Homo sapiens: one gene and its partners. The protein of the gene in region 2 purifies or fractionates together with the protein of the main gene of each other region. This does not show direct contact. Each region holds a gene or a part of one and is shown on either strand. Other genes may lie near its edges.

The links.
Region 1: the proteins of LRRC32 (region 2) and SCN2B purify together in Homo sapiens (co-immunoprecipitation; one large-scale study listed by IntAct). This does not show direct contact.
Region 3: the proteins of LRRC32 (region 2) and ZDHHC6 purify together in Homo sapiens (co-immunoprecipitation; 3 studies listed by BioGRID and IntAct, with this or other methods). This does not show direct contact.
Region 4: the proteins of LRRC32 (region 2) and COL6A1 purify together in Homo sapiens (co-immunoprecipitation; one large-scale study listed by IntAct). This does not show direct contact.
Region 5: the proteins of LRRC32 (region 2) and ORC4 purify together in Homo sapiens (co-immunoprecipitation; one large-scale study listed by IntAct). This does not show direct contact.
Region 6: the proteins of LRRC32 (region 2) and PPM1B purify together in Homo sapiens (co-immunoprecipitation; 2 studies listed by BioGRID and IntAct, with this or other methods). This does not show direct contact.
Region 7: the proteins of LRRC32 (region 2) and NAGPA purify together in Homo sapiens (affinity purification with mass spectrometry; one large-scale study listed by BioGRID and IntAct). This does not show direct contact.

Annotation. Positions count from the first base shown.
Region 1 is NC_000011.10:118,173,591-118,178,490, forward strand, and holds the start of SCN2B (sodium channel regulatory subunit beta-2 precursor), read right to left. Parts: upstream 3,050-4,900; 5' UTR 2,842-3,049; coding exon 2,772-2,841; intron 1-2,771. UniProt on the Homo sapiens protein: Regulatory subunit of multiple voltage-gated sodium (Nav) channels directly mediating the depolarization of excitable membranes.
Region 2 is NC_000011.10:76,663,739-76,668,094, forward strand, and holds part of LRRC32 (transforming growth factor beta activator LRRC32 isoform a precursor), read right to left. Parts: intron 2,221-4,356; 5' UTR 2,217-2,220; coding exon 2,133-2,216; exon of another isoform or gene 2,128-2,132; coding exon of another isoform or gene 2,110-2,127; intron 129-2,109; exon of another isoform or gene 1-128.
Region 3 is NC_000010.11:112,439,839-112,444,194, forward strand, and holds part of ZDHHC6 (palmitoyltransferase ZDHHC6), read right to left. Parts: intron 3,769-4,356; coding exon 3,677-3,768; intron 2,514-3,676; coding exon 2,354-2,513; intron 858-2,353; coding exon 696-857; intron 1-695. UniProt on the Homo sapiens protein: Endoplasmic reticulum palmitoyl acyltransferase that mediates palmitoylation of proteins such as AMFR, CALX, ITPR1 and TFRC.
Region 4 is NC_000021.9:45,987,885-45,991,809, reverse strand, and holds part of COL6A1 (collagen alpha-1(VI) chain precursor), read right to left. Parts: intron 2,727-3,925; coding exon 2,673-2,726; intron 2,203-2,672; coding exon 2,158-2,202; intron 2,059-2,157; coding exon 2,032-2,058; intron 1,553-2,031; coding exon 1,526-1,552; intron 1,433-1,525; coding exon 1,388-1,432; intron 1,038-1,387; coding exon 984-1,037; intron 832-983; coding exon 769-831; intron 1-768. UniProt on the Homo sapiens protein: Collagen VI acts as a cell-binding protein.
Region 5 is NC_000002.12:148,013,996-148,018,351, forward strand, and holds part of ORC4 (origin recognition complex subunit 4), read right to left. Parts: intron 1-4,356. UniProt on the Homo sapiens protein: Component of the origin recognition complex (ORC) that binds origins of replication. DNA-binding is ATP-dependent. The specific DNA sequences that define origins of replication have not been identified yet.
Region 6 is NC_000002.12:44,213,429-44,217,784, forward strand, and holds part of PPM1B (protein phosphatase 1B), read left to right. Parts: intron 1-267; coding exon of another isoform or gene 268-293; exon of another isoform or gene 294-329; intron 330-4,356.
Region 7 is NC_000016.10:5,027,567-5,031,718, forward strand, and holds part of NAGPA (N-acetylglucosamine-1-phosphodiester alpha-N-acetylglucosaminidase precursor), read right to left. Parts: intron 2,928-4,152; coding exon 2,819-2,927; intron 1,443-2,818; coding exon 1,314-1,442; intron 620-1,313; coding exon 414-619; intron 328-413; coding exon 280-327; intron 1-279. UniProt on the Homo sapiens protein: Catalyzes the second step in the formation of the mannose 6-phosphate targeting signal on lysosomal enzyme oligosaccharides by removing GlcNAc residues from GlcNAc-alpha-P-mannose moieties, which are formed in the first step.

The DNA of each region.
Region 1 (4,900 bases), about 42 Mb from region 2:
AAGCTCAGCACAGTGCCTAGCACATGGCCTGGACAAAAGTCAGCTGCGACTATGATGAGCATTATTGCTATTATTGTTGCCATACATACAATGTTGTCTTGTTATTATTTGTTCATGGGCCTGTTTCCCTCTAGAGGCTCCGGGGAACTGACTCCTATTCATCTTGGTATCCCTGGCACCCAGGACAGTGTGTGGCAGAGTGGGGACTCAATAAAGTCTACTAAAGGAAGAAGAGACAGCTTTCTCTCCATGTCTGGGTCCCCACCACCACAAGCAGCAGATATGTGCAGTGGGCTAGAGTGAGGACTAGACTTCACTTTCTTTCTTTCTTTCTTTCTTTCTTTTTTTAAGAGACAGGGTTTGGTTCTGCTGCCCACGCTGGAGTGCAGAGGCATGATCACGGCTCACTGCAGCCTGGAACTCTTGATACTCCTTCTTCAGCCTCCTGGAACAGTTAGGACTACAGGTACATGCCACCATGCCTGGCTTATTTTTCTTTTCTTTTTTTTTTTTTTTTTTTTTTTTTTTTTGTAGAGACAGGGTCTTGCTATGTTGTCCAGGCTGGTCTCCAATTCCTGGCCTCAAGCGATCCTCCCACCTCGGCCTCCCAAAGCACTGGGATACAGGCGTGAGCCACCATGCTCAGCCCAGACTCCACTTTCTATGCCTCCACTAACATAATCCATACATTGGTAAGCAGGCCAGTGACTGTGGAGTCAACGGTCTCAAGAAAAACTTGAGGGAAGCCCAGTCATTTGAATTGTTTCTGGCTAAAACTAGCCTCATATGCTTCTGCCGTGGGTAGAGCTGGTTGCCCACCTGCCCTTTCTCTTTGCCACCTCCATAGTCATCCCCACAAGCCCAGCCCCGACAGAGTCCCCTCCCTCGTCACTTGTGGCATCCTCCATCCTGGGGATCGATGCTACTGCAACACCACCAAAGTTCCACTGTCAACTCGGCCCTCAGCATTGGAGTGCCAGGGACATGCCTCATTACAGCACCAATCAAGTTCAAGTTCAAGGTCCCCATTCCTGCATCCTCTCCCACTCAGCTTTGCAGAAGCTTTAGCTTCCTCCCACTACCATCTCCCCACCCCAAACACTCAGACCTCTTCATCGCAGACTCCCTCTTCCTCACCCTAGCCCAGAGCTCTGGGTCCTGGTCACTGAGCCCCCTTTCTATCTTTACTTAGCCATGGCTCTCACCAGGCGGCTTCTCTCCTGCACGAAGTGCTTCCTAACTCCTGAGGAAAGGGTCCTGTCCTCCAGCTGGGCCTCCTTACAACAGGCCACTCACCCAACTCCCCTTCTTTCAGCCTGTCCTGAGACTCTGATCAATTAGGTACTGTTAATATAGCAGTGCCATTTCTTGAACATTGGGGAGTGGAATCCAACGTTTAAGAGAATGTGCTGAAGTCAGACACAGGGAGTTCAAATTTCAGCTCCCGTTACCATAGTCATCTGTTTCCTCCCTGTAACCTGAGTATAATAGAATCTACCTCCGATTGCTGTGAGGGCTAAACAAGATACACAGTGCCTGGGCTCACGAAAAGCATTCTTATGTTAGCCATCGTTGAGTTCCTGCCATGCACCAAATCACAAACACGTCAGGCAGTAGGCATTCTTTAGTTTACCCGGGAGGGAACTGAAGCTCAGAGGGGTTGAGTAACTTGCCTGTGATCATTACGTAAATGACAAAGGTGGCTTGAAACCCAGGTCCTGCCAGAGATTCCATAGCATTCCTGCTCTGATGTTAATATGCCAAGTAACTCAGCAAAGCAGGCTGGCAGGGCCTCTGCACTGTCTGTGTTTAGCACTCCTACTCCAAACCCAGCACATCACACCACAGAAAGAGAGAGAGCCTTTGTGGTGGGGAATAGTTCCATCAACAGTCCTTGGACTTGACTCTCAGTTGCTGCTCCAGCAATAAGTAAGTTTAGGAGCAAGAATGAAACTCTACAAAGCAGGCTTGCAAATAACTTTCTAGCCCACTTCCCCACCAGGAAGTCTCTGAGTGGTCAAATACAAACACTTGACAGGACAGTCTGCAAGACTGGGCTGGGCAGTTCTGAGGCTGGATTTAAAGGGCTGCAACCTCGCTCAGCCTGTGGGTTCCATTTTTTTCCTGAATCTCTACACCTGGCCCTTCCTCCATTCCATCCGGCCCAAGCCAAAGGTGCCTTCTCCATCAGTGCGTGCCTCAGCAGGTCTCCTCCCAACCCAGACATCATTCCCCAAGCCCGCTTCCCACCTACTCCCACACACGTTCCAACAGATCAGTGAGACCGAGTGCCAAGAAGCCAGACCCAGACTCAACTTTCTGCCACCAGCTCCCCTGCACACTCTCCTAATACCCTAAATCCACCAGGATCAAGCTTCTGAAAAGAAGCCCCTTAAGGGAGCATTAAGTCCCAGGACCCCGCATTTGCAGCAACTCCAAAAAATAATCCCTGAAGAGACTGCAGGTCAATCCACTCTCTGCCCCACCGCCACGTAGGTCCACTTAGGGGAAATCCAGAGAAGATTCACCTCCCTTGACAATTGTCAGCCCCCAGCAACACTCAGATCCCCTGACCCAACATTTCTGTGACTAAGTAGTCCCAGGGTTCTGCACTCCCCAGCAACGTCCCTTCCAGTCCCCAGCACCTCCCCTCCCAAGGACACAGAGGGAAAGCGCTAGCAATGTCTTCTTTCCTATCCCCTGCCCCCATCCTCTTCACATTGCGGCTACACTTCTGAACCCTCGGGAGCATGCAGATGTGTCTAACTTACCCAAAGAGAAAAAGAGACTGAGCCCCGTGAGGCTGAAGGCAGGGCGAGGTAGCCAGGCATCTCTGTGCATTTTCAGAGACTGAGATGTTAGTCGGGTGGGCTACGGGAGAGGGTGATTTGAGGGGGCGAGAACTACAAGGGAGGAATGGTTGGATGCTAAAAAAAAATGCACGGATGTACTTCAAAGACATATACAACATTAAGGAAGCTTTATTTCCATCTCTCTAATATGGCCGGCTTGTATGTTGCTGCTAAAAAGAGAGAGAGAGGGAGTGTGTAAAGGAGAGAGAGAGAGATGGGGGGGAGAGAAAAGGGGGATGGGGTAAATATTGTGGTTGGTGGATTTCAAAAAGCAGGTGGGAGGGCATAAAAAAGTCATTTTGAAAAGAACAAAATCCCAGAAATTTTTACCCTCTAAAACAAGAAATAATACAAACCCTGCTTTTTGACTTCACTGGGATGATTGTTGGATTTTGAAAGCTATTAGAGGAATCCATTTATTTTAAAGATTCTGGAAAGGGAAACACCTTTTATCATTTAAAAACACCCCCAGGCTGACGCAGTGGCTCACACCTGTAATTCCAGCACTTTGGGAGGCCGGATGGATTGCTTGAGTCCAGGAGTTCAAGACCAGCCTGGGCAACATGGCAAAACCCATCTCTACTAAAAATACAAAATTTAGCCAGGCATAATGTCGCATGCCTCTTGTCCCAGCTACTGCACCGCACTCCAGCCTGGGCCCTGCCTCCAGAGGGAAAAAAAAAAAAAAAACCTAAAAAAAAAAAGGAGATGCTTGTTTTTGTGTTATTGAAAAGGGTTCAGGAAAGTGAGTTGGAGAGACTTTCAAGGGGTAATGCTTTCCTCATTCTAGCGTTTCCTCTGAAAACAGAACATGTTGAAGCAGGCTGATAGAAAAATACCCAAGAGATCTTACAATTGAATGTAACACAGGCCTTTGGATAAACCTGATTCAAACAAATCAACAGGAAAGAAAAGTTTTTGAGACAATTGGGAAAAGTTAAATATGAACTACATAGTAGATTGTATTAATGAATCATTCTTAATTTTGTTGGGTCTGATAAAATGTGGTTTTGTCCTTTAACATCTCTATCTGTTAAAGACACACATGGGTGGCCGGGCGGGGTGGCTCACACCTGTAATCCCAGCACTTTGGGAGGCCGAGGCAGGCAGATCACCTGAGGTCAGGAGTTCGAGACCAGCCTCCCTAACATGGTGAAACCCTGTCTCTACTAAAAATACAAAAGTTAGCCGGGTGTGGTGGCGTGTGCCTGTAATCCCAGCTACTTGGGGGGACTGAGGCAGGAGAATTGCTTGAACCTGGGAGGCGGAGGTTGCAGTGAGTCGAGATCACTCCGCTACATCCCAGCCTGGGCCACAGAGTGAGACTCCATCTCAAAAATACATATATATATATTCAACGAAAAAAAGAGATGGGAGAATAGGTGACACGAGACTAGTTGTTTTGCTTGATAATTGAAACTAGCTGGTGATGGGTGTAAAGGGTTTGTCATATAGTTCTCTCTTCTTTTGTGTATGTTTAAAACTTTTCTTTTGAAGAAGGAAGAAAAAATAAGCTAACGTCATAAGTAGGAGAACTTGGTGGGTGGAGTCCAAGGTGGTCCTAAGCAGAGGTGACCCCCATACTCCTGGGGAGATGGTTAAGTAGGGCAGAGATTCGCATGCAGCAGTCACCTGCATTTGTGATGGGCCCTTTGTGTACCAAACAGGGAGCAACTAATATTTTTGAGCATAAACTCTGTGCCAAGCACTTTACATGTGATATCTCAATTTTTTATTTTTTTATTTTATTATTTTTTTTTAGACAGGGTCTCGCTCTGTCACCCAGGCTGCAGTGCAGTGGTGCAATCTCAGCTCACTGCAATCTCTGCCTTCTGGGTTCAAGCAATTCCTGTGTCTCAGCCTCAAGAGTAGCTGGAACTACATGCACGTGCCACCACCCCCAGCTAATTTTTTTGTATTTTTAGTAGAGGCAGGGTTTCACCATGTTGGCCAGGCTGGTCTCGAACTCCTGACCTCAAGTGTTCCACCTGCATCAGCCTCCCAAAGTGCTGGGAGTACAAGCGTGAGCCACCATGCTCAGCCTGTGG
Region 2 (4,356 bases):
ACCCCCTGGGGCATTCCTTACTTAAAGCAGAAACAACAAAATGACCTGTGATGGAGCCCCAGCTGTGTCAGGCTGCGTGCTGAGTGCAGAGACCCCCTACCCCATTAAATCTTCCCAGGCATTGTTCACCCTGTTCCTATTGTACCCCTAACGAAACTGAGGCTAAGGGGAGTGGGCTGCCCAAGATCAGACAGTCAGGGGCTCAAAACTCCCATTTGCAAATTCCTTTTCCTATTGGTGCCAGCCAAGTTCTGACCACTGGGCCCTCAGCTGGTCAGCACAGCAAAGAGCATCATGGACCCACTTACTGACTGTTACAGTGTGGGGGGCACCGTGCTGTGCCCCGCGTGTTACCCCCGGGCAAGTGCAGAGGCATACTGCCTCTGGATAGGCAAAGGCTCCCTGGGGCACCAGCCCCTGAGACTTGATCCAGGACACAAAGTTTGCCAAGCCCACAGCCCAAGACTGGCTTTCCATTCAGGGGCCCAAGACCCCTGCTCTAGAAGCCTGGGGGCCTGATGGTGGGCAGGGCTGCACTGGGATGCCCAGATCTCCAGTCCAGTCCAGGAAGAAGCTTGAAGTCCAGGGCGGTGCTCAGAGCTCCACTTCCAGGGTCTTCATGCCTCCTTCAGCTCTGAGCTCCCAGCATTGCCTGACTTACCGTCGGAGGGAATTGGAGGAATTGGCCCTTGACCAGAGTTTAGAGCTCCCACCCACTGTCCTGGGCTATCAGGACACCCACTGCCCAGCTTCCTTTTCAGAAGCAAAGACTTGCCATCCAACTCCATTTCACCACCTGATCATGGGAGGAAAGCAGAGTAGGGAGAGGCACCAGGCAGTGAACAGTGGCAAAGGCAGCTGGGTTCGAATCCTGTAGGTCCCTGGTGGGTCACACATCTTCTCCTTACTTCCCGTGTGTATTATTCCCATGCTGGTTCAGAAAGTGCTTTCCTATCTCTTATCTCATTTCCCCAGACTCCAAAATTCACCCGCTTCCCCTCTGCCTGTTGGGTAGTCAAGGACTTTCCCCTCTGAGCCTCGTCTCCCTGAGGTAGAATGTGCGTTTGTATTTGGTGACATCTGAGGCCTTCTCTGCCCGCAATTCTGGGCTCCGGGAATCTTAGAAGGGCTCTGAAGAGCAAGAAAGGTGGTGGCAACAGGAGACATTGCACCCCCAGGGAAGGGCTGCGGGCAGGCAGCTGCCTGCACTTCCTGCCTCCTGAAGCAGCTGCCGGTTCTGTGTCATAAGCTTCTTCGAGTCTCAGGTCCAAGAGGGGCTTCCGGAGGCCCTGCCCTTTCCCCAGCCAGGCTCTGGCCTCAGTGACTGCCCGGCCTTACAAGTGGATCTAGGTGTTCTCTTTGCCCTGTATCTCATAGAGTCACAAGAACTTTAGGGCTAGTTTCCCTGGCTTGGGACAGGAAAAAGGAATAGAAGCAAATCAAACTTGGTCCTTGCCCTAGGGAAGTTCATGGTCTGGCAGGTGAGACAGGCTTGGACCCTTTCACCAACCACCCCACATGTTCAGTCTTCTCAGTATTGAGATAGGGGGAAGCCTGGGGACCGCAGGAACCCAGAGGAAGGTGTGATCAGACTAGGCCAGCCTGGGAGGGGCTGGGGAGGCTTCCTGGAGATGGCAGCATTTGATCTGGGCACTAAGAAGTGAGAGGCACTCCAGCGGGCAGTCCCAAGTCAAGGAGCCCAGCTTGGAAGGGGATTTGTCTCCAAGAGGGATGAGCACAGAGGAGCCCCTCCCAGCTGGCCTACCCCAAATTCCCCACACATATATATATATTCTAGATCCCCTAGCTGGGCCTACTGCTCTGTGGGGACAGCTTGGGGGAATACAGTGTAATATCAGCCTCACTGTTCCCAGCTGAATGACCTTGGACAAGGCCCAATCTCTCCAAGCCTCAGTCTCCTCCTTTGCAAAATGAGAATAATGGTGCTTACCTGGCAGGACTGTGGGTAAATAAGGTGTTTAAACATTCTAGTAGGTGCTCATTAAATGCAAGGTACATTCCCTTTCCTCTCCTGACTCTTCTAACTTCTGGCTTCTGGGGCTGGGGCACTAGCACACCCTAGGGCAGGGAGGTGGGGGTGGTCCTCACCCTGTCTGGGCAGAGCATCTTACCATCTTACAGGGCACTTTGTCTTGGTGTTGTGCAGCCAGGCCTAGGGTCAGCAGGGCCAGGAGCAGCAGGATCTGGGGTCTCATGGCTCTGTGTAAGGCGGAGAGGAAAGGGGAACACTGTAAGCCCACTGGCTCCTTCCCACTGCCAGCCCCCACTCCCACCCATTCTGTGCCTGCCCTCAGGGAACCCCAGAGCACGGCTGGAGCTGGAATAAAGATGCTTTGAGCAGGGCAGAGAGCCAGGTGGGAAATGGGCCTGCAGCCCATCATAGTAGGCCTCTCACCCAGGCCAAGGAGCCGCCCATTACCCAGGGGAAGCAAGAGTTTTAAGCGGCAGGTGACTTGGTCAGACGGGGGTTTTCAAGAGACCCCACCTGGCGGAAGACAGCCTGGAGGGGATGCACAGAAGGCTGACAGACCCTAAGGGTTACCCTAGGCCATGCTCAGGGCCAGGGACTGGGGGCATGGAGATGTAGAGGGGGTTTGGAGGGTGGGCCTCTGACTACATTTCCACCCAGGCCACACAAGTCCTCCGTACCAGCTCTTCAGTCCCCACATGCAATTCCTCGTTTTCTGCCCACTCCCCCACCTTTATTTTGCCCTTTTCCTTTTGATTCTCTGATTCTCGAGCCCTTGCCATTGTTCAAGGGCTGGGCCCGGGCCTTGGCAGGAAGTCCCACAGGAGGCCTGGCTGCCCCGGCACTGCTCTGCGGACTTCCCCAGGAGCAGCCTGGCAGGCCCTGTACTTTCACTGAAGCCACACTCCGGCCTCCTGGGCCAGCCCTTCCCTCTAAGAGCAGCCAGGGGTGGGGCTAAGGGGACCGCACAGGCCCTTAGCAGGGTTAAATCCCAGTGCTGCTGGAGGCTCACTCACTCCCTCACTAAGGACATCAGCCAAGTGCTAGGGATGTACAAATCCACCCATGAATTTCATTCATTCATTCACACCTTTACTGAATACCTCCTCATGTCTGGCTCTGTGCTGGGAACTGGGAACTCAAAAAACAAATGAACACGAAAAAGAAGTGACAGTGACGGTGATACAGACAGAGAGTCTTAAAGAGGGACACAGAAAGCCTTCCAAGAGCACCAGGCGCACAGTCACCCACATCTGACTGCTCCCTCTTGTCTCCTCTACCTTTCTGCTGTGTGATCTTACAAGTCGCTTCACCTCTCTGAGCCTCAGTCTCCTCATTTGAGGTTAATGGCAGCCATGCCAAGTTTTTGTTGAGAATCAAACGAGATGCCACCTACAGAGCCTCCATTATGCAGTAGGCCCTCTCCTCAGCACTTTCTAGGCATGAACTCATTCCATCCTCACAAAAATTCAATGACTTGGTTCCATCATCATTTTACAGAAGGGAAAAAGAAGTCTCAGAGAGCTTAGGTACTATGCCCGAGGTCACACGGTGAACAAGCCACCGGCCCAGGTGAGTCTGGCTCCTGGGTCTGTGCCCTTCAAATCCACACTCCCAGGCCTCCCACAGTGGGTGCTCCCTCAGTGAGTGCTGAACCGCGATTCTGAAGGATGCTGCAGGAGAAAAGGCATTCACAGGGCATTTGAGGGCAGTGTCTTTGACTGTTGGAACCCGCTAGTGATGAGCTATGGACGAAGATGGCTGCTCTGAATCCCATCTCTCTTGAAGGCGCACAGACCACAGCCGGACCCGGTAAACCCTATTCCCTGGCTCCCCTCAGGGCCACAGGCGCTGCCCCTGCAGCTGCTCTGCTCTCACCTGCATTACAGGTTGTGCTTTCACAGGAAACTTTGTTCTGCTGTTTAAAAAGCAGAACGCCACCGCCCGTTAGAAAGTTAGCATATTCAGAACTGAGTGAAAACCCCTCCGGCAGGGCCTTCCAGGCCACTGGGGAGCATGCCCTGCCTGGCCAGCTCTGCTCTCCAGCCTGCTTCCCCGGTGTCCCCTCTCACATTCTGGGTTCTGGACACCTCATATTTCCTTCAGTTCCCTGAGCAGATTTTCACTGCCCCAAACCTTCACTTTCTCCCCTCTCCTCTTCTGCTAAAGACCTCCTCATCCTTGGGGTCCCAGCTTAGATGGGCCAAGAGGCCTTCTTTGGTTCCCCAAGTCTGGACTATGTCCTCCAGTCCTCCCAGAGCCCCTGAGCTTCCAGTGAGCACAGCACCAAGCCCTCCGTGGCTACTGGGCCCCACCCCCTCCCATGGGAAGTGCCCCTAGAGAGGGGCTCACCATCCTTTAAGATG
Region 3 (4,356 bases), on a different chromosome or scaffold from region 2:
AGCCTTAGAAATTAGCAAAGTGATTCATCAGAGTAGGCTTTAAATAGCATCTTTATCATAGGGCTGTTATGGAGATTAAATGAGCTAATACATGTAAAGTGCCTAAAACAGTGCCTTACACATAATAAGTGCTCAATAAATGTTAGCTATATTATGATTACTATTATTAAATATATACTATTATAAAATAACATTAGTGTTTACCAAGTACATGAATGGGTGACATTGGGTAAGTCACTTAACCTTTTTGAGAATCAATGAATTAATCATCTGTCGGGAAGGGAAAATGTTTACCAAGTACATGAATGGGTGACATTGGGTAAGTCACTTAACCTTTTTGAGAATCAATGAATTAATCACGTGTTGGGAAGGGAAAACAGTAAGACTCCTCTATTGGGGTGGATGTGAAGAGCAAGAGAGACTGTACAGGTGAGAAGAGCTCTCTCAATTCTGAAGTGCTCCAGAACTTACCTAACTTGAAGTTAGCATTTTAAAAACTAAATCAATACCTAGAAATTCTGGCAAAATTAAATCAAAATTATCTGACGAATACAAAGGAGATTAGTTACCTAAATGAAATAAGCAAAAATAATTTCCATTTCATACTGGACACTTAAATACAGGCTTTGTCTCTTTCTTGTGCAATCAGTCCCAACAACTTGACACTTTTGACTTGAGGTAATTGAGATGCTTACCTGGATAAAAAACAACATCCCAACAGCTATGGTTGTTCCTAAAGCTAATCCCAAGGCAAACAAGGTGGTAGCAAATGCAGCTAATCCAAATGGAACAATTGGAAGAGGATCTCTCCGGGCTGCACTCATGTCGATCTTCACTGTGTTCCACCCAAAGGAGAGCTATCGCAGCAACAATAGCACACGCACAAAATGTTTGGTTATGGTAACTGGTCAGACTCTACTGTGACACGTAAAACAACTTGATCAAAGAGATAACAACGTGGCCCTGTGGCCAACGCAAACACAGCTATTTTTATTTTATTTTATTTATTTATTATTTATTTATTTGAGACGGAGTCTCACTCTGTCGCCCAGGCTGGAGTGCAGTGGCACGATCTCGACTCACTGCAACCTCCACCTCCCAGGTTCAAGCAATTCTCCTGCCTCAGCCTCCCGAGTAGCTGGGACTACAGGCATGTGCCATCACACCCGGCTTATTTTTTATATTTTTAGTAGAGACAGGTGTCACCAGATTGGCCAGGCTGGTCTTGAACTCCTGACCTTGTGACCCACACCGCCTCAGCCTCCCAAAGTGCTAGGATTACAGGCGTGAGCCACTGAGCTGGGCCAGCTATTTTTAATTAATATAGTAATGAGCTCGGACCGATGTGCAGGATATCATTCTTAGTTTTCTCAAATGTTACTTTTTGTTGTTGTTGTTTCCTCAGAAAGTGTCAAGGAGACCTTACCAACATTAACATACATAAACAACACTAGACACTAATCTAAACCAGAACTATGTCTTTTCTCTTCTCTTGCTATTCTACATCGCAGTATTCTTCCACAGTGACAAGTGCTGCCTAGGATTCAGTTGTTTCTTCCCTCATGTTTTACAAATGGTGATGAAGAACTGATAAAATGCAGGCCAAATATGGCCACAGATGTGTGCTGCCTGGCCTGCATAATGTTTCAACATTCAGAATTAGGTGCCAACATTTAAAAATCAAGAGATTTCACATAAAAATCCAGATTTTCAGATTTTTCTGGGCTAGAATTTCCAAACACCACAAGCTAGCAGATCAAATATGGGCTGTCCCCTCCCCAAAGGACAGACTCTCCAGTTTGGCAGTCCCATCAGGTGTGTCTCTCGTTTACTTTCAAGGCCTGTTTAGGGAGGTTTGTGTCCCTTGAACTTTATCTCATGACTACTTGCCCATAAATCAACTTGATCTCTTGCTGGTTTAATCTGTTTATATTTTATGGTATGCATCTGCTCCATGAGCCACCTTCCAGGGCACTAGAATCAGAAATGAACAAAGAACTACAACTTGCCACATGAATGGGATGAAAGTAGGAAGCACTAGTGTTGTCTTTTTTTCTTCTATTCTTTCCATAACTATTAAGTTTGAAGTCTAACAAATTACATATACAGTACTAAAATATTTATCACCTTCAACTACAGCATGTAAGTTTTCAGAACAAATACTCTTTCCTCATCTTAAAATTTAAGTTTTAATGCTTTCTAAAAAGGAACCCATATACCAGTAAAACAAAGTTCTATTTCCCCAACTAAATCACAGAAAGCATATTTCCAAAAGGAACCTCTTAAATGTTGATAACTACCATTTAATCTTGCATGGATGATTTTATAACAAAACATTTTCATTTTCACTTACCCGATGATAAAGCTGTGTGTACATAGTCATCACAAAAATGAAAGCAGCATGGATACAACCCAGTGGTGCTAAAAGGAGAAACAGTGTGAACGAAGCATGATTTTGGTAACCACAACAGTTGTTGATCCAAGGACAGTGATGGTCCATCTTCATCACACATCTAACAAGAAAAATTTACATAAAACATGAGGCAGAAAATCCTGTCTACTTTAAATAACTTTGGTCTTCAAAAGATCAAGCAAATAGGAATCCAGCATGTCCATGAGCTACGAGAGAATTATACTTCATGGAACAGAAAGAAAAATCTTTATGAGCTTTTAAACAATTAAGTGACTCCTTTTAAATTCTAAACAGCACAGGAAAGGGCAGGCTTTCTAACAGCTTCTGAGGAAAAGATGTCAGCTACAAGTATTTGTTTAAAGAAGTCAGGAGACCCACTGAAAGAGGGTCTCTTTATAATGCTCATTATAAAGAAATGAGCATGGTTCCTGGTTTTCTTCTAGTTTGTAAGTGCAGTGACCCAAGTGACCTACAATAGAGACTCAACAAATCCCTTATAGACCTCCAGTGGGGTTAATGGGCTCAAATAGACACATGTAACTTCCTTCCTGTTCTCATAGTATCCTTTAGTTAATGGATCTCTGAGCTAAGCAAGCTAACTCCAGAATATAAGATATGGTATAATAAACAAAGTCTTGCCGTGTACTGTTGATAGAAGACAATGTTTTGGCCTGAAACAAAACTTTATTTGCTTTCAACGGTTCTCTAAATTTCTTACTAATCAGTGATTATAGCTGTTCATTAAAAAAGGTCACAGGTTATTTCATATTTTTAATAGTCAGTTTTCTTCTAAGTTTTTGATATTAAAACATTTGTGATAATAGGCACCTGGATTATTAGATGTGTATAAAGTGTAAATGTTTGTCAATAAGTAATGGGAAAAGCAGATCTCCCTTATAATTTAGACTCAGAACAATTCTAAAGTTAGTCCAGATGGCAGCTGACTAACACAATTAATCTTGATATATGGAAACAAACTTAAGGTTTATACCTTTTTCCCTTGTTCTTGTAGGACAAGAGGCAAAGTAAATCTGTATTTTTCTGGAAAATCTTTTCACTTGTAACAAGGAAGAATTAAATCTATTTATTATCTAGATAATTTAAGTATAAAATGGCGATTATGGACACAAGTATTCTGACAATATTGTTTATAATATGGTAACCTTGCAGTGAATAGAAGTAGCACTAATGTAGTATAAGCAACAATGAAAACATCAGTAATTAGTTGATCAGTCCTCGCTGAACAGCAAGAAAGACAGGTACCTGTTACACTTTCTGCAGTGATGTGAACGTGGTGCCTTGTATGCTTGGCAGACTTTACAATACTGGAGATACATGGTATCCTGAGAAATTTCCTTGGCAGCAAAACAGAAACAAAAATGCATCATCGGATACTTGAATATAAGTATGATTCCTACGGTATGATTTTCTTTTATGGGCGATAGGGGAAGGAGAGAATCTTAACTTGCATTTCCAGTCCTCTTATTTGAGCTAAAATATTTTTAAATAAGTTTTCTGGTAAGAGCAGCATCACTTTCCCAATTACCCAGAAGTCCTTTTAAATTTTTCTTCCTTGTGCTCCACCTAAATTCAGTGTCACTAGTTGGTTCTACTTACCCCAAATCTTAGTGGATTCAGGAGTTCAGAAAAAGGTAGCTGACAACTTAGCAGGTATTTTAGAGTGAGGAGTTAATCGTGAGTTGATAGTCCTACTGAAATCTGCTCCCTCCTTGACATTACCCGTCACCACCCCTTTCTTGGGCCATTTTAATCACTTCCTAACTAGTTTCCTTTACTGTAGTTTTTCTTCAGCACAAACCGTGTATTGTCAAAATAATATTCCTATAATACACCTCTGACTGTGTCAGACTCTGCCTGAAAACCCCTACAACTTTCTATGGTCTACAATTTCTCATGTATTTAAGACTGTCACAATCTGCCTT
Region 4 (3,925 bases), on a different chromosome or scaffold from region 2:
TGTGAGGCCCAGCCAAGGGCCATCTTGTCTAAGGGGCAGGATTTGGTTCCCATTAGAGAAGGCACAGCTTTGCCAGGCTGGCAAATTGGCAAACTCAAATCTAGGGCCTGGAGGGTAATCTGGGAACTTGAAGATGAGATTTGGAAACCGTCTGCTGGGTTCTAGGAGCTCGTCTGGGAATGTTTGGGGTGGGGTCAGCATTCGCCTTTGTCTTCCCCAACACTTCAGCTTCAACAAAGAAACTCCAGAGAAAACACCAGCAACGGCAGACTCAGCTGTCAGACGAAAAAGCTCCTTCTCCCGCCTCGTGCTCCCGCCCTCCCGCTGCCCACTCGCCCTCCCACCCGCTCACCACCCTCCTCCCGCCCCCGCTCACCACCCTCCCGCCCACTCGCCACCCTCAGTGCCACCCAGCCCATTCTCAGTTCTGAGAGCCATTCTGGGCTGCGGCTCGCAGGCTAGGAGTGACGCGGTGGGGTCCCATCTGTGCCGAGCGAGCGGCAGGTGCGGGGGACAGAATGGCGGAGGCCTGAAGGCCCTCGGGCTGCAGGGAAGGCTCTGGGCGGGAGCGCCACGGCCACTGTCCCCACGGTGGGCACTGTCCCCGCTGCTCCTCTGCCTGCCTCCAGCCTCCACCAGCTCCTCCCCTCTGAGGCCGCACGGGTGGCCGACATGCTCGGACCAGGACTTGCTTCCAGGAGAGGTTTCCAATTCAGCGCTTGGCCAACCGTGAAGGCCCTGGTCCTCCAGGGGCCGCAAGTCACTCACCTTTTCTCCTTTCAGTCCAAAGGCACCGGGGTCTCCCTTGGGGCCAGGGGGTCCTTGAATGCCCTGGAGAAAAGAGGGCAGCATGACACCACCGGCAGAGGCCACCGCGGCCTCTGGCAGCAGCCCCAGACCGCCCAGACAGAAGTCAAAACGGTCCACACGAGGTGCTGCTGACAGCGCTAGTTTTAAAGTATCAGTGAGAGGAAGTGACTTACGTCAAACCCGGGCGAGCCCTTGCAGCCTGGCAGGCCTGGGTACCCCATCTCCCCCTGGAAAGAGGAAGAAAACTAGAAAATCTGACGGCCAAGTGGGTAAACTGAGGCCAATCAACTGTCAGACTTGGTGCCCTCCATGCCCTCCACACCCTCCCTGGAAAGCCCTGCCTAGCAGACACCCCCCTGGGGTCACCTTCACACCGTCCACCCCACTCCTCCCTGTCCCTCCTGCCGGGATCACCTCACCCCATCCCTCCCCGTCCCTCCCCGTCCTTCCCCTGGTCACCTTCACACTGTCCACCCCATCCCTCCCCGGGTCACCTTCACGCCGTCCACTCCGTCCCTCCCCATCTCGCCCCATTCCTCCTCGTCCCTCCCCGTCCATCCTATCTCCCCCCAGTCACCTTCACGCCGTCCACCCCGTCGATGCCACGCTTGCCCTTCTCTCCCTGTGAGGCGGGAAAACGAAGGCAGGAGTCAGATGCAGGTCAGACATGCTGCCGTGGGGGCAGAACTCCCCCCTCCCAGCAGCCCACGCTCACCTTGTAGCCCTTGGGTCCCCTGGAGCCCTGCGGAGACAGGAAGCGGGTGTGAGGGGGTATTTGGGGTGGGGAGGGCAGGGCAAGCCTGGCTTAGGCCCACGCGAGGCAGGGGCTTGGGTGCCCCCAACCCGAGGGGACAACATCACTGCTGAGAATCATGGGGACTGACAGTGATGGGGAGGGGCCGCTCTGCAGAGGGTAACCGCCCGGGGGACCCCCGGCTCCGCAGAGGGTAACCGCCCGGGGGACCCCCGGCTCCGCAGAGGGTAACCGCCCGGGGGACCCCTGCTCTGGGGTGGGGTGAAAGTGACACAGGCGCCTTTGCTGGGTGCCTGGGTGGCTGTCCTTGTCCTTCCAGATGGAGGGGACGGCGAGGGGCGGTGGAGCGGGTCTGCAGGACACGTGGTCTCCTGTCAGGGACACTGTCCTCATCCCCGGGGACACCCTCGTCCAGGATGGCACATCTGCGCCTGGAGAGACCAGCTCCGAGGTCGAGCCTCACTCACCTTCTCCCCACGGCTCCCTTTTTCTCCCTACACACCCAGCGGAAGAAGAGGAAGAGGAAGGCTTGTTAGTGCTGTGCAAGGCTGAGGGCACCACCGGGCTCGGGCCAGGAAAGGGGGGGCACGTACCTTCATTCCCTGGTACCCAACAGGTCCGAGGTCCCCGGGTCTTCCCTGGAACACAGGAGGAGATGGTGAGACACCCCCGGAGGAGCAGGGGCAGGGGCCAGTCCCACCCAGCCCCACACCCCTCCCTCCAGCCCAGGCCTGGTCAGGCCGAGAGAGGGGCCCTGCTGCACGGGGCCCATGGTGCCGAGGCCCTCCAAGGTGGAGCTGGGGGAGGGAAGTCTATGGATAGGATTTGGGCCAAGGAGCCACGGCAGGGGCCCCGGACGGTGCCGGCCTGAGCACCCTGGGCCACCTCCCCACCCAGCCCCTCCCTGGCAGGGGGGCTTACGGGCTGCCTGGGGGGCTGTGTGGAAGGATGGCTGGGCTGTGGCCCCTCCAGGTCTGCTCCCACCCACAAGGAACAGGCAGTGTGACTTTGGCACTCAGAACCCAGCCACTCTTCCGGAAGTTTCCGAGGCCTAGTCGTTCCCCGCCTCCAGCTTCTTAGGGCCCCCACCCCACAGTCAGGCACTCACAGGATCTCCGGCTTCTCCCTTCTCTCCTGGGAGCCCCGGCTTGCCTCGTTCTCCCTGGAACACAAAACAGGTCAAGGTTGGGGCAGCCCCGTTTCTTTCTAAAAAGCTGGCTCACGAAACAGGTTTTTAAAAAGACGCTTCATCCAGCCTTCAGGGATCAAGGGCTTTAAAGCACCTTCCCCATCACATCTGGTCAGCCTGGGTCTGGGAGCTCCAACCCGCACGCCAGCTCCCCCCACTCCCTGCCTTCGTTCCTGTCTGCTCGGCTTTGCTGACCCCCAGGCACAGGTGGGAGGGACGTGCAGCACAGAAGCCCCCCAGGGTCACAGCTCGACCCCCAGGAAATGGCCATGGGACTCGGGCCCACAGCTGCTGGGTTTGATGGTTTTTAGGAGAAGCCAGAAATCTGAGGTCCATGAGCAGCCTCATGGCAAGTTTTAATTATCAGCAGCTAATTCTAACGTTTAAGGTCATCCTATGTGAGCCACACAGAAGCAGGGGACCCACATTCTCACCCTCCTACCTCCAGAAAGGTCCTTCTGAACAGAGTGCGGCTGAGGGCAGGGCGGACAGAGACACCCTCAGAAGCCCCCAGCGCCCCCGGGACAGTCCACACCCTGCACGGCCGGAGCCTGCCTGCTGGACCCCGCCGTCCCTTCCATCTGGACCCCGACATCCCCTCCATCTGGACCCCGCCGTCCCCTCCATCTGGAGCCCCGACGTCCCCTCCATCTGGACCCCGCCGTCCCCTCCATCTGGACCACGCCGTCCCCTCCATCTGGACTCCCGCCGTCCCCTCCATCTGGACCCCGCCGTCCCCTCCATCTGGACCCCGCCGTCCCCTCCATCTGGACCCCGCCGTCCCCTCCATCTGGACCCCGCCGTCCCCTCCATCTGGACCCCGCCGTCCCCTCCATCTGGACCCCCGCCGTCCCCTCCATCTGGAGCCCCGACGTCCCCTCCATCTGGACCCCGCCGTCCCCTCCATCTGGACCACGCCGTCCCCTCCATCTGGACTCCCGCCGTCCCCTCCATCTGGAGCCCCGACGTCCCCTCCATCTGGACCCCGCCGTCCCCTCCATCTGGACCCCGCCGTCCCCTCCATCTGGACCCCGCCGTCCCCTCCATCTGGACTCCCGCCGTCCCCTCCATCTGGAGCCCCGACGTCCCCTCCATCTGGACCCCGCCGTCCCCTCCATCTGGACCCCGCCGTCCCCTCCATCTGGACCCCGCCATCCCCTCCATCTGGACCC
Region 5 (4,356 bases), on a different chromosome or scaffold from region 2:
AAGGCTGAGAAAAAAGGCTGAGCTAATGGAAGATGTGCCGGTCTATGGTAAAAAAATCAAAGCACAAGGCCAGGTGTGGTGGCTCATGCCTGTAATCCTATCCTTTGACAGGCCAAGGCAGGAGGATAGCTTGAGCCCAGGAATTCAGGATGATTGTGTGCAATACAGCGAGACCTCATTTAAAATAAAAATAAACACAAAAAATCAAAATCAAAAATAAAAATAAAAGCACATTGCCTAACAAAGCTGGGGACTCAGATAAACTACCCAATTTATGTTCAGAGTTTAAGGACAACATCATTAGGATAAGAGGAAATTGAAGGAAAATAGAATTCATGATCTTAAAGTCTTCCTTAATGTCATGTGTATAACAGAAGGAATCCCAACTCTTGAACATGAATAGTGACTTGGGACTGAAAGCACTCCTAGAGACCTTTCCTAGAAAAATGTACCTTCTTAAAAAAGATACTATTATTCTAGGACTCATATATTCCTATAATTTTTTAAATACAACTGGTACTCAAGGCACACAAGAAAAAAATATCATAAGCTAGCAGACACAGACTTAGAAAATTTAGAAACTGGAATTATCTTCAACAAACAACAAATGAACTATGAATATAGTCGGCCCTTCATAGCCACAGATTCACTCAACCAAGGATTAAAAATACATGTATATTTTTAAAAACACGACTATAAAAAATAATAGAAATTTTTAAAAAGCCATGACAGTATAACAATATTTACATAGCATCTACATTGTATTAGGTACCATAAGCAATCTAGAGATTATTTAAAATACGTGGGAGGATGTGTGTAGGCCGTATGCAAACATGATGGCATGTTATATAAGGAATTTGAGCTGCCTGTGGATTGTGGTATCTGCACGGGGTTCTGAAACCAATTTCCAGCAGATACTAAGGAGCAACTATACTAGGCCAATAAAAGCAAGATTGTAATTTTCAGCAGGTAACCAGAAACAGTAAGAATATCACCAATATCTTTAAAAAGATACTGATGCATTGATCTAATAATCTCGATGAATACAGGGCAAGATAAAGAATGCCACACGATGATTGAACATTTCCTCTACCCCCACAACCACACTTGACTAGGAGAAAAAAAAAAAAGAAGAAAAGAATTCCACACAAAAAGATTAGAGTGAAACAGCAGAAAAATTACAACCAAAAAAAGAAACAAACAAAAAAAAATTCTAAAAGAGAGATTTCCTTCAAAGCAGCATGAATTATTAGGTTGGTACAAAATTAATTGTGGTTTTTGCATTGTTGGAATTTGCCATTTGATATTGGAATTTTTTTTTTTTTTTTTTTTTTTTTGAGATGGAGTCTCTCTCTGTTGCCCAGGCTGGGCTGCAGTGGCGCGATCTCGGCTCACTGCAAGCTCTGCCTCCAGGGTTCACACCATTCTCCTGCCTCAGCCTTCTGAGTAGCTGGGACTACAGGCACCCGCCACCACGCCTGGCTAATTTTTTGTATTTTTAGTAGAGACAGGGTCTCACCATGTTAGCCAGGATGGTATCGATCTCCTGACCTCGTGATCCGCCCACCTCAGCCTCCCAAAGTGCTGGGATTACAGGTGTGAGCCACCACACCCGGCCTGGAATACATTCTTAAATAAATGTGGTTATGTTATATGTCATTTTAATGGGCATTTCTTGCTTTTTTTTTTTGGCTAATGACTTATTACTTGCTGTTTATATTTATTTTGGACTATGGAAATGATGCTAGACAAAAAGCAAAGTTGAGTGATTTTCTTATTTAAGTTCAAAGTGGGTCGTAAAACAGCAGAGACAACTTGCAATATCAACAATGCATTTGGCCCAGGAACTGCTAATGAACGTACAGTGCAGTGGTGGTTCAAGAAGTTTTGCAAAAGATACCAGAGCCTTGAGGATGAGGAGTGTAGTGGCAGGCCACTGGAAGTTGACAACAACCAATTGAGAGCAATCATTGAAGCAGATTGATCCTCTTACAATTACATGAGAAGTTGCTGAAGAACTCAACGTAAGAACTCAACGTCAACCATTCCACAGTTGTTCAGTATTTGAAGCAAATTGAAAAGGTGAAAAAGCTCGATAAGTGGGTGCCTCACCAGCTGAGCAAAAATTTAAAAAAACACCGTTTTGAAGTGTTGTCTTCTCTTATTCTCCACAACAACGAACCATTTCTCAATCGGACTGTGAGGTGCAACAAAAACTAGATTTTATATGACAAGCAATGACCAGCTCAGTGGCTGGACCGCGAAGAAGCTCCAAAGCACTTCCCAAAGCCAAACTTGCACCAAAAAAGGCCATGGTAACTGTTTGCTGGTCTGCTGCCGGTCTGATCCACTACAGCTTTCTGAATCCTGGAGAAACCATTACATCTGAGAAGTATGCTCAGCAAATCAATGAGATGCACTTAAAACTGTGATGCCTGCAGCCAGCATGGGTCAACAGAAAGGGCCCAATTCTCCACAGTAACACCCAACCGCACACTGCACAACCAACACTTCAAAAGTTGAACGAACTGGGCTACAAAGTTTTGCCTCATCTGCCATATTCACCTGACCTCTCAACTGACTACCACTCCTTCAAGCATCTCTACAACTTTTTTCAGGGAAAATGCTTCCACAACCAGCAGGATGCAGGAAAAAGCTTTCCAAGAGTTTGTGGAATCCTGAAGCATGGATTTTTACATTACAGGAAAAAACAAACTTATTTCTTGTCGGCAAAAATGTGTTGATTGTAATGACCTATTTTAATTAATAAAGATATGTTAGAGCCTCGTTATAATGATTTAAAATTCGCTGTCCCAAACCACAATTTCTTTTGTACCAACCTAATGCATTGACAGCTGATTTCTCAAAATCAATAATGAAAACCAAAAACAGTGAAATGTTATCTTCAAGGTACAAGTAAAACAACCACAAATCTGTAATATCCCCCAAAACATTCTTCAAGATTGAAGGCAAAACAAAAAATTAAGACAAAGCAAAAAAATTAAGAGAACTGACCATCAGAATGTCTGCATTATGAAACTTCTACTGAGTGTGCTAAAGTAAAAGTTAAAAGATTCCAAAAGAAAAGTCAGAGACGCAGGAAGAAATTAAGACATGGTAAACACATAGGAACATCTAGCTCAAAGTACTGTCCAGCAGCAATACAGTAAAAGTGACATAAGTAATTTAAAATTTTCTATTGTTCACACTAAAAGAAAACAAGGTGAAATCAATTATAATTTCAACATGTAATCATAATGAAAAGCTGAGGTATTTTACATTGTTTTCATACTGTCTTTGAAATATGGTGTTTATACAACATTACAATGCAGATGCTAAATTAAAACTGCCATATAAAATACTTGATCTATATTTTTATATAATTTGCAGCTAATGCCGGGTGCAGTGGCTCACGTCTGTGATCCCATCACTTTGGAAGCCCAAGGTGGGTGGATCACTTGAGGTCAGGAGTTTGAGACCAGCCTAGCCAAAATGGTGAAACTTTGCCTCTACTAGAAATAAAAACATTAGCCAGGTGTGGTGGCACATGCTTGTAATCCCAGCTACTAGGGAGGCTGAGGCAGGAGAATCACTTGAACTTGGGAGGCGGAGGTTGCAGTGAGCCAAGATCATGCCACTGGACTCCAGCCTGGGCAACAGAGCGAGACTCCATCTCCAGGGGGGAAAAAATCTCCAAAAATTAAAAAATAATAATTTAATAATTTGCGGTTAAGAAAGGTTTATGTATCCGAGTTGTTCCAAACATACAGGTTTTACAGTAACTGAATCAAGTGTCAGTTTTTAAACTTAATTGAACACTAAATAAAACTAAAAATTCAGTTCCTCAGTCATACTAGCCACATTTCAAGTGCTCAAAAGCCACACGCAGCTAGTAGCTACTGCAATGAATAGCACAAGCATAGAACTTGTTATCTGGAGTTTAAACTACGTATACAATTCAAAGAACAATGACAGCCTATAAGACCTACATGAAGATAAAAGTTGCCATCCCAGAAGAGAGTAATGCTCCAAGCACAGAGAAGATATTGGCCATACTGCTAGAAATCCCTGAGTAAAACAGACAACCCAATTAAAACAAAAAACAAACAAACAAAAAAACCTCCCAAAAAGATTTAAAAAGACAATGCACAAAAGATTTAAGAATTAAAAAGACAATTCTAGAAAGAGGAAATTCAAATAGCCGGTAAGTTTTTGAAAAAGTGCTCAAACTCTTTAGTGTCCTGGGCAGAATAAATTAAAACAACAATAAGATAAAGCCACATTCATCAAGTTGGGAAAAAGGAAAAATAACTCTTGGTGAGACAGTAAAAGTAAAGGGATCTACCATATACTGCT
Region 6 (4,356 bases), on a different chromosome or scaffold from region 2:
TAGTATAATAGCTTTGTTGAATTTGGTCATTTTGTATATAGTAGGCCACAGTAATTGGTGAGAGTTTTGAAGTGTGAAGATGTGTGATTTCTAATATGTAATTACAATTAAAAGTATAAAACCAAGAAGAGAGTCTTTTGCAAATTTGGAGAATGGGGATTTATCTTTTCTGTCTCTACAACTATCTAGCTATGCACCCTAAACAATGTGCTTAAAGTTTTTTTTGCACCTACAATTTCCTCAGCCCTAAATTAATCTTGTTTTTAGGTCTCAATGCTTTTGAGTTTCAATGAGTCCTGCTTTGAGGGTGATGAAAACGTGAGAAACATGTAAGAACACATTGAAGATTATGTCAGATGCGGTCATATTCCTATTGATAATATCATTAAGAGGAGCTGTTTTTATAGGAGTTAATATTTAATGATAAATTGTAGTATATTGGGGTTGCAGATTGCTGACTATAGTTTATCAGAAGGTGGGAGGAATTCTCTTAGTTTCCTTCTTCCTCATTCATAAAGAAACTGGGTAGTTTTTATTTTAGGAAGAGCTCTCTAGTTTGGTCAGCTGGCTGTTATGTGAACTTATCCAACTTGCTTAACCCCTCAAGGCACCAGTTTCTTTATTGGAAACTAAAGATAAAAACACCAACCATAGAGTTTTTTGTTTTTTGAGACAGAGTCTCGCACTGTCACCCAGGCTGGAATGCAGTGGCGCGATCTCGGCTCACTGCAAGCTTAGCTGCCCGGGTTCACACCATTCTTCTGCCTCAGCCTCCGAAGTAGCTGGGACTACAGATGCCCGCCACCATGCCTGGCTAATTTTTTGTATTTTTAGTAGAGATGGGGTTTCACTGTATTAGCTCAATCTCGTGACCTCGTGATCTGCCCGCCTCGGCCTCCCAAAGTGCTGGGATTACAGGCGTGAGCCACTGCGCCCGACCCCATAGAGTTTTTTTTTTTCTTAAATAAATTGTTACAAAAAAAGCTTATTGATGACACTTGTTAAAGATGGTAAGGCAGATATTTTTTCGGGGGTGGGGGGGGCATGGCAGTAGATATAGGGACCACTATGATAGAATCTTGCAGTGGCAGAAAGAAATTAAACTCAACTTGGGGTCCCATAAAGATAAGTGGAATTTATAACTAAGGAGCTGAGTGCTTGAAGGGAGTGTCAGTGGATGGAAAATTATTACTAAGAGGAAGCATCAACATAAGGGGTTTCTGGCTAAACTGACTTGATAGCATGGCAGGCCAGGCTAAAATATCCAGAGTGGTCCTATATCAAGTGTGTGGGGGTTTTCAGTAAACTGACTGAGCAGGATTCTCATTCAGCCTGGTTTCTACAAGGACAGAGAGGGAGCCTAAAGTTCTCCTAGTCAGAAAGAACTCAAGAGTCTTGCTGAAGGTTTGGTCCAAGCAAAGAGTTTTTGTCAAAATAAATGAGAATTATGTTTGTTAAGCACCTATTATGGTGCCTAGCACGTAAGTCCTCAGCAAACTGTAACTTTATATGAACTCTTAACTTCTGTAATAGCCACATTTTAATTTCTTAAAGGTGTGGTCAATTCAGTTTAACATGAGTTAATAATTTAATATTAATTTTCTTCTGCATAGTTAGTAACTTTCTAAAGTATATATTATATAGGAGAGATAACAAATATGTAATATGATCTCTAGGGCCTGTAGCAAATAGTTATTATTAATCAGGAGACAAAATTGTTAGCTAGGCAGCCACTACAAATCAATTTAAGTTGGTACTTAAAATGTAACTTCACAGTAGCTTACACCTATAATTCTTGGGATGCCGAGGCAGAAGGATTGCTTGAGACTAGGAGTTCAAGACCAGCCTCGGCATCATAGAGCTACAAAAAAGTTTTAAAGATTAGCTGAGCATGGTGGTGCACACCTGTAGTTCCAGCTACTTGAAGACTGAAGCAGGAGGATCACTTGAGTCCAGGAGTTTGGTGTTACAGTGAGCTATGATGGCACCACTGCACTCCAGCCTGGGCCACAGAGTAAGAACATGTCTTTAAGAAAAAAAAAAAAGTAACTTTTTATTTGTAAAGCAGTGTTCTTCAGGAGCATTATGTTTCTTCTGGGGTTTTAAATCATGTAATATGACATTAAATTTTGTGGTAAATACATTCTGGTGTACTTGGTAAATCTGTGTGTATGCTTTTAATGATGACTGGTCAGGTGGGAAAGGAATAATATTAAAATAAACAGGGAATAGTAGTTCACCTGAATTGATGAATTATATATTTAATGATTGCTTTCTACATACAGGTTTACTCAGTGTTTATTGAACATGTGTCACTGAGGATATAGCAGAAAAAGAAATCTCATAGAATTTGTATTCTAGTAAAAACCTATTTTTTTTTAATAGAGAAATAAAATAGAGTAAGTAGAGAGCAACAAGGAATATTGGTTAGAAATGTCTCTGTGAGGAAGGATGTTTGAGCAGCCGTGCTTGGAGAGAGAATATCTGAGGGAAGAACATTCCAGGCAATGACAACAGCAAAGACTAGGAGGGAATGTTCTTAGTGAGTGCAGCTGGGTTAGAATAAGCCAGTAGAAAACTAGAGGAAAATTAAGAGGTTTGTAGGAGGCATATCATGTGAGGACTTTGGACTTTGACTTGTGGGAATTCATTGGAAGATTTTGAGTACAAGAGTGATTTGTTCTTTTTTCCAAAGGATCTCTCTTAGTTGCTGTATGGAGAAGAGATTGTATAAAAGGGACAAGAGAAGCCAAAATACCGATTAGAAATTATGCATTAATGCATGGTAGTGGTAAATTGGACTAGAGTAGAGGGGTGTAAAAATGTCTGGTGACATTTTTGGTGTCATAGCTGAGGGGGTGCCACTGGCATCTAGTGAATGGAGGCCAGGGATGCTGCTTAATATTCCACAGCACACAGGACAGCCCCCACAACAAAAAAATTGTCTGGTGTAAAATGTCGGTGTTGTTGATGTTGAGAAGCCTTATACTATAAGACACAGATTTAAGGTAGAAAACTTACAGTCCTGCTTTCATGAAGCTTGCAGTCTATGACCCAATAAACATCGTGTATGTGGGAGTATATAGCATTATGGTATACAGTACATGTCATGCATATGGGAGTGTATTGCAGTGTACCTACTCAGACTTAGGTCAGAGAAGGATTTGAGAATGTGACATATAAAATTGAAACCTCAAGGATGAAAATAGGCATTCATAGCTGGGCGTGGTGGCTCAGGCCTCTAATCCCAGCATTTTGAGAGGCTGAGGTGGGTGGATCACGAGGTCAGGAATTCAAGACCAGCCTGGCCAACATGGTGAAACCCCATCTCTACTAAAATACAAAAATTAGCTGGGTGTGGTGGCACATGCCTGTAATCCCAGCTACTTGGGAGGCTGAGGCAGGAGAATCGCTTGAACCAGGGAGTCAGAGGTTGCAGTGAGCTGAGATAGTGCCACTGCACTCCAGTGTCTCAAAAAAAAAAAAAGGGACATTCACCATACAGAGGGGTTGGATTAGAGTGAAAAGTGTTCCCAAACCAACGAAAAGAGTATGTGAAGATCTAGAAGTAGAAGTCTTTGAATGGATCCTTTGGAGATGAGGGAGGCGGGCAGAGTTGAAAGAGTAGTGGAAGTCAACGTAAGGGTCTTGTGAGGCATGGTAAACAGTTGTTTTGAAAGTAAGGCCTGGGCTGGGTGTGGTGGCTCATGCCTGTAATCCCAGCACTTTGGGAGGCCGAGGTGGGTGGATCACCTGAGGTTGGGAGTTTGAGATCAGCCTGACCAACATGGAGAAACCCCATCTCTACTAAAAATACAAAATTAGCCAGGCATGGTAGCACATGCCTGTAATCCCAGCTACTCGGGAGGCTGAGGCAGGAGAATTGCTTGAACCCAGGAGGCAGAGGTTGCAGTGAGCCAAGATCACGCCATTGCACTCCAGCCTGGGCAACAAGAGTGAAACTCCGTCTCAAAAAAAAAAAAAAAGCTGTAGAATGTAACTATTTCAGGTAAGTATCAACTTGTAAAAATGATTTTTAATTTCTCCCCTTTTTCTTATAATTCTTATCTAGCTAAACTTTTATTATCCTTTAGTAATGGCATTCATAACTTTTATATTGTTTTTACTTAATATTAGATCAGAAGTATTTTTCCATATAGCTGTTACTGTATTCATCAAGACACCTATTTCGTAATTTTTAGTGATTATAAACCATTTCACTCAATGGCTACACCAAAGTTTTTAACTGTCCTCTTGTTGGTGAACATTTAGTTTGTTCCAGTTTTTGCTTTTTATGAATAATGCTGGAATGAACATACATATGCAAATAACTGTTTTTTCTTTTTTCCCCCTGCA
Region 7 (4,152 bases), on a different chromosome or scaffold from region 2:
ACAGAGGCACTGCAGTTAGGATCTCAAGATAAGACCGTGCTGGATTTGAGGTGGGCCCTGGAGCCAGAGCCCGGGGACCCTTGTTTTAGCCGAGCCCTTTGTGGAACGGGCCGCAGCAGCCACAGGGGAGTCACACAGTGATGTGCAGGTGAGGCCGGGGCAGAAGACAAGAGGCAAGCATTTCCCAGACCAGAAGGTGGAGACAGAAGCAGCAGAGGAGCAGTGGGGGCTGCCGGGGGCCACCGTCTCCCCATCCGCTAGTGGCGTGGCAGCTCCTACCTTCACTGCAGTTGGACCCGGTCCATCCGGCATCACAGCGGCAGCCGGCTGCCGAGACAAGACCGGGGAGGCCAGGTGAGGGCCTAGGGCAAGGCAGGGCTGGGCAGAGCCCCCTCCCCAGAACCCCCACTCACTCTCCGTGCACAGTCCGTGCTGGCTGCAGTTAGAGGGGCCACAGTCCAGCTCATCACAGCCGGGACCCCGCCAGAAGTGCCCGGTGCATTGGCAGTGCCCGTCCACGCAGGTCCCGTGGCCGTGGCAGTCAGGCGGCTGGCAGCGGGGTTCGTGCACACACACCACGGTGGACACTTGGCGGGGACAGCGCCACATGTTGTCCTGGCTGTAGAGGGATGTGATGTGTGAGGAGAGGACACCCCCAGACGGCCCCTCAACTCCCTCCAGGCTGCCCCCAACCACCCCTCTCTCCATTCTCACCTGTCTACCTACCTACCTACAAGATGGCGTCTATCTATTTTTGAGATGAGGTATTGCGATCCTTCCACCCGAGCCTCCTGAGCAGCTGTAACCGTAAGGTGTGCACCATCACGCCTGCCTAATTTTTTTTTATTTTTTCATAAAGACAGGGTCTATGTTGCCCACACTGGTCTTAAACTCCTGGGCCCAAGCGAACCTCCCACCTCGGCCTCCCAAAGCACTGGGATTCCAGGCGTGAGCCCCTGTGCCCAGCCCTCTCCAGTCTTTTATAGGTTCCTCCGCTCCCTACAATCCCTCCCAGCCCTGGGCCTTTCACATGTGGTGCCCTCTGCCCGGAAGGCTCTCCCACCCCCACCCAGCTACCACCTCCTTCAGATCTCAGTTCTTATTCTGTCATCCTCAGGGAGGTCTTTGCTGACCAACTGACCCTGCTCCTAGGCCTGGGTAGTACTGGCATCCTGGGGGAGGGACTGCAGCAATTTCTGCTCTCTTGAACCCCCGGGGCCTGGCACATAGCAGGCACTCAATATTGGCTGAATGAGACAGGCTGGGGCAGACCTGGACTTCAGCCCTCACGAAGGCGGCTCTCACGTGCTTACCAGTGATCTGACGGGTAACTGGCCAAGGTCCCGTTGAGCACAAAGGTGGCAGAGCCACCCCCATCCAGGTTGATGGCGTTGACCACGTCCTGTTTCAGCAGGAACTCCGCCATTTCCCACAGGTTGATGCTGCGGCACAAAGCGGCGCTGCTCAGGCTCAGCGCCCACCATCATTTCTCATTTAACTCCTTTTCCTTCCACAGTGCAGAGCATCACGCCCACAGTGCAGGCACATTTCTAAGTGGCCCCCGCCCCCAAGCATGTCTCATCCTAGCCCCCGGAAGCTGTGAACACGTGAGATCACACCCATGCCTGTGCTGTTACATGGCATAGGAATCCTTAAGGGAGGGGAAACGGCCCGGAGGATCTGGGTGCAGCCACTGGAATCACAGGAGTGTTCAACACAGAGAGCCTTCTCTGGCTGGTGACAGAATAGGAAGTGAGATTTGAAATACGAGGGGGATGAGAGGGTGGCCGGACAACTGGGGGAGAGGACACACATGGGAAGGAACCTGGGCAGCTTGAAGGAGCTGAGGCCCCAGATGGCGGCCAGCAGGGAAACCAAGACCTCAGTCACAACTGAGGAGGCGACGGGGATTCTTCCAACAACCTAAACAAGAGGATTCTTTCCAGATAAGAGAAGAGCCCTGCCTAACCAGCATCTTGGTTTTGTCCATGGGACACCCTGAACATAGAACATTCCAAGTTGACCAGCCTGGCCAACATGATGAAACCCTGTGTCTACTAAAAATACAAAAATTAGCCAGGTGCGGTGACTCACGCCTGTTAATTCCAGCACTTTGGAAGGCCGAGGTAGATGGATCACCTGAGGTCAGGAGTTCGAGACCAGCCTGGCCAACATGATGAAACCCCATCTCTACTAAAAATACAAAAATTAGCTGGGTGTGGTGGCGGGTGCCCGTAATCCCAGTTACCTGGGAGGCTAAGGTGGGAGGATCACCTGAACCTGAGAGGTAGAGGTTGCAGTGAGCTGAGATTGCACCACTGCACTCTGGCCTGGGCGACGGAGTAAGACCCTGTCTCAAAGAAACAAACAAACAAAAGAACATTCCCTGCTGAGTGTTGCTAAATTTGTGCTGGTTATGCAACCAGAGCAAACCAAAACACTCTCTTTACAGGGGCTAGAAATGAGGCTCAGGGAGGCCGAGGGACTTGTCTACGGCATAGGTGGGTAGACAAGTCATCGATGGCTAAGCTGGGATTGGAACCAAGATCTTCTCCCTGCTCACTTTGTGACCATTTCCTTGTATCCTATCTAGGGTTCAGGAAAGGTGAGGCCTAAAGCTGAAGATGATGAGTTCTTGGAATCGGCAAAGATCTCAGAACCCTCATCCTGTGGGAAGGTGAGGGGGCCCTGGGAGGGGGGACAGATAGGTGTCAACATCCCAGAAAGCAGGTAGAGTCAGAGGGTGGCTGTCATTGGGTCAACGTTCCTCCTAGCAGGACTGAGCCCCGGCCGGGGGGCCTCAGCTCCCAGGACTCACCCACGCTGCTCCGTTTGGCCGTCTGCATGAAAGAGCACCAGCTGCCCTTTCCGGTCGTGGCCAATGGCCGTCCTGGCTGATATCACATTCACAAATTTGCTAAAGGAACCTGAAGGAAAAGCAGCCTGGCTGATCACCGCCCCTTGGGAGGCCTCCTGCTTCTTGCCTAACTCCACTTCCCACTGGTCTGAGCTACCTGGTACCTCCCTGGGAAGCACAGCAGCCTCCTTGCTCGTCTCCCTGCCTCCCCTCTGCACATCCCAGTCTCCCCAGGGCAGCCGGGGGGTCTCTTCTTACAGGTAAACCAAGCTATGCCAGCCTCCAGGTGAAGACCCTCTAATGGTTTCCCCTGTTCTTAGAACAAAATCCAAAGAGCCAGCATGCCCTCCCCAGCCTCTTCCTCCTCCTGCCTCAGCTCCTGGGTGTCCCCTCACCACCCTGCAGCCACTTTGCACTTCCTGTTCCCTCTGGCTGGGAACTGTGCTTTTCTCTAGCTTGCTCCTTTGTCAGATCACCTCCTTAGTGAGGCCTTCCTTGACCGCCCACTCTTTTTTTTTTTTTGAGACAAAGAGTCTCGCTGTGTTGCCCGGGCTGGAGTGCAGTGGCATGATCTCAGCTCACTGCAACCTCCACCTCCCAGGTTCAAGCAATTCTCATGCTTCAGCCTCCCAAGTAGCTGGGACTACAGGCACACACCACCATGCCTGGCTAATTTTTGTATTTTTTTTTTTTGTAGAGATAGGTCTCACTATGTTGCCCAGGCAGGTCTTGAACTCCTGGGCTCAACCGATCCTCCCGCCTCGGCCTCCCAAAGTGCTGGGATTATAGGTGTTAGCCACCACACCTAGCTTACTGCCCACTCTAAAATGGTCATGGTATCCTGTCCCCATCCCAGTATTCTGCATCCCAGTGGTTCTCAACCTTGAGTGTCGGTCAGAGTCACCATGGAGGCCCGTTAAAACATAGACTCTTGGGCCTTGCCTCTGATTCTGCAGGTCTGAGGGTGTGGGGCTTTGAAACAAGCTCCTGGGCCACGCCGATGTTGCAGGTCCATGAAGATTTTTTTCTCTTCACTTTTCTCTTCCTGTACCCACAGCTCCGGTCCCCATCTCTCCCCTTTCCCCTAACTTTATTTTTGTTTCTGAGCACTTATCAATTCTTTTCAGCATATTCTATAACTATTTTTTGTCCTATATATTCAATATAAGCCTATCTTCCTCCCCATGAATCCCCAGTACCCAGAATAGTGCTGGGCACAAAGTAGCTGCTCAATACTTGTTGAAAGACTTAAGAACAGCTCCGCCCAGCCCACTGGTCCTGGTTCTCGAGAGGGT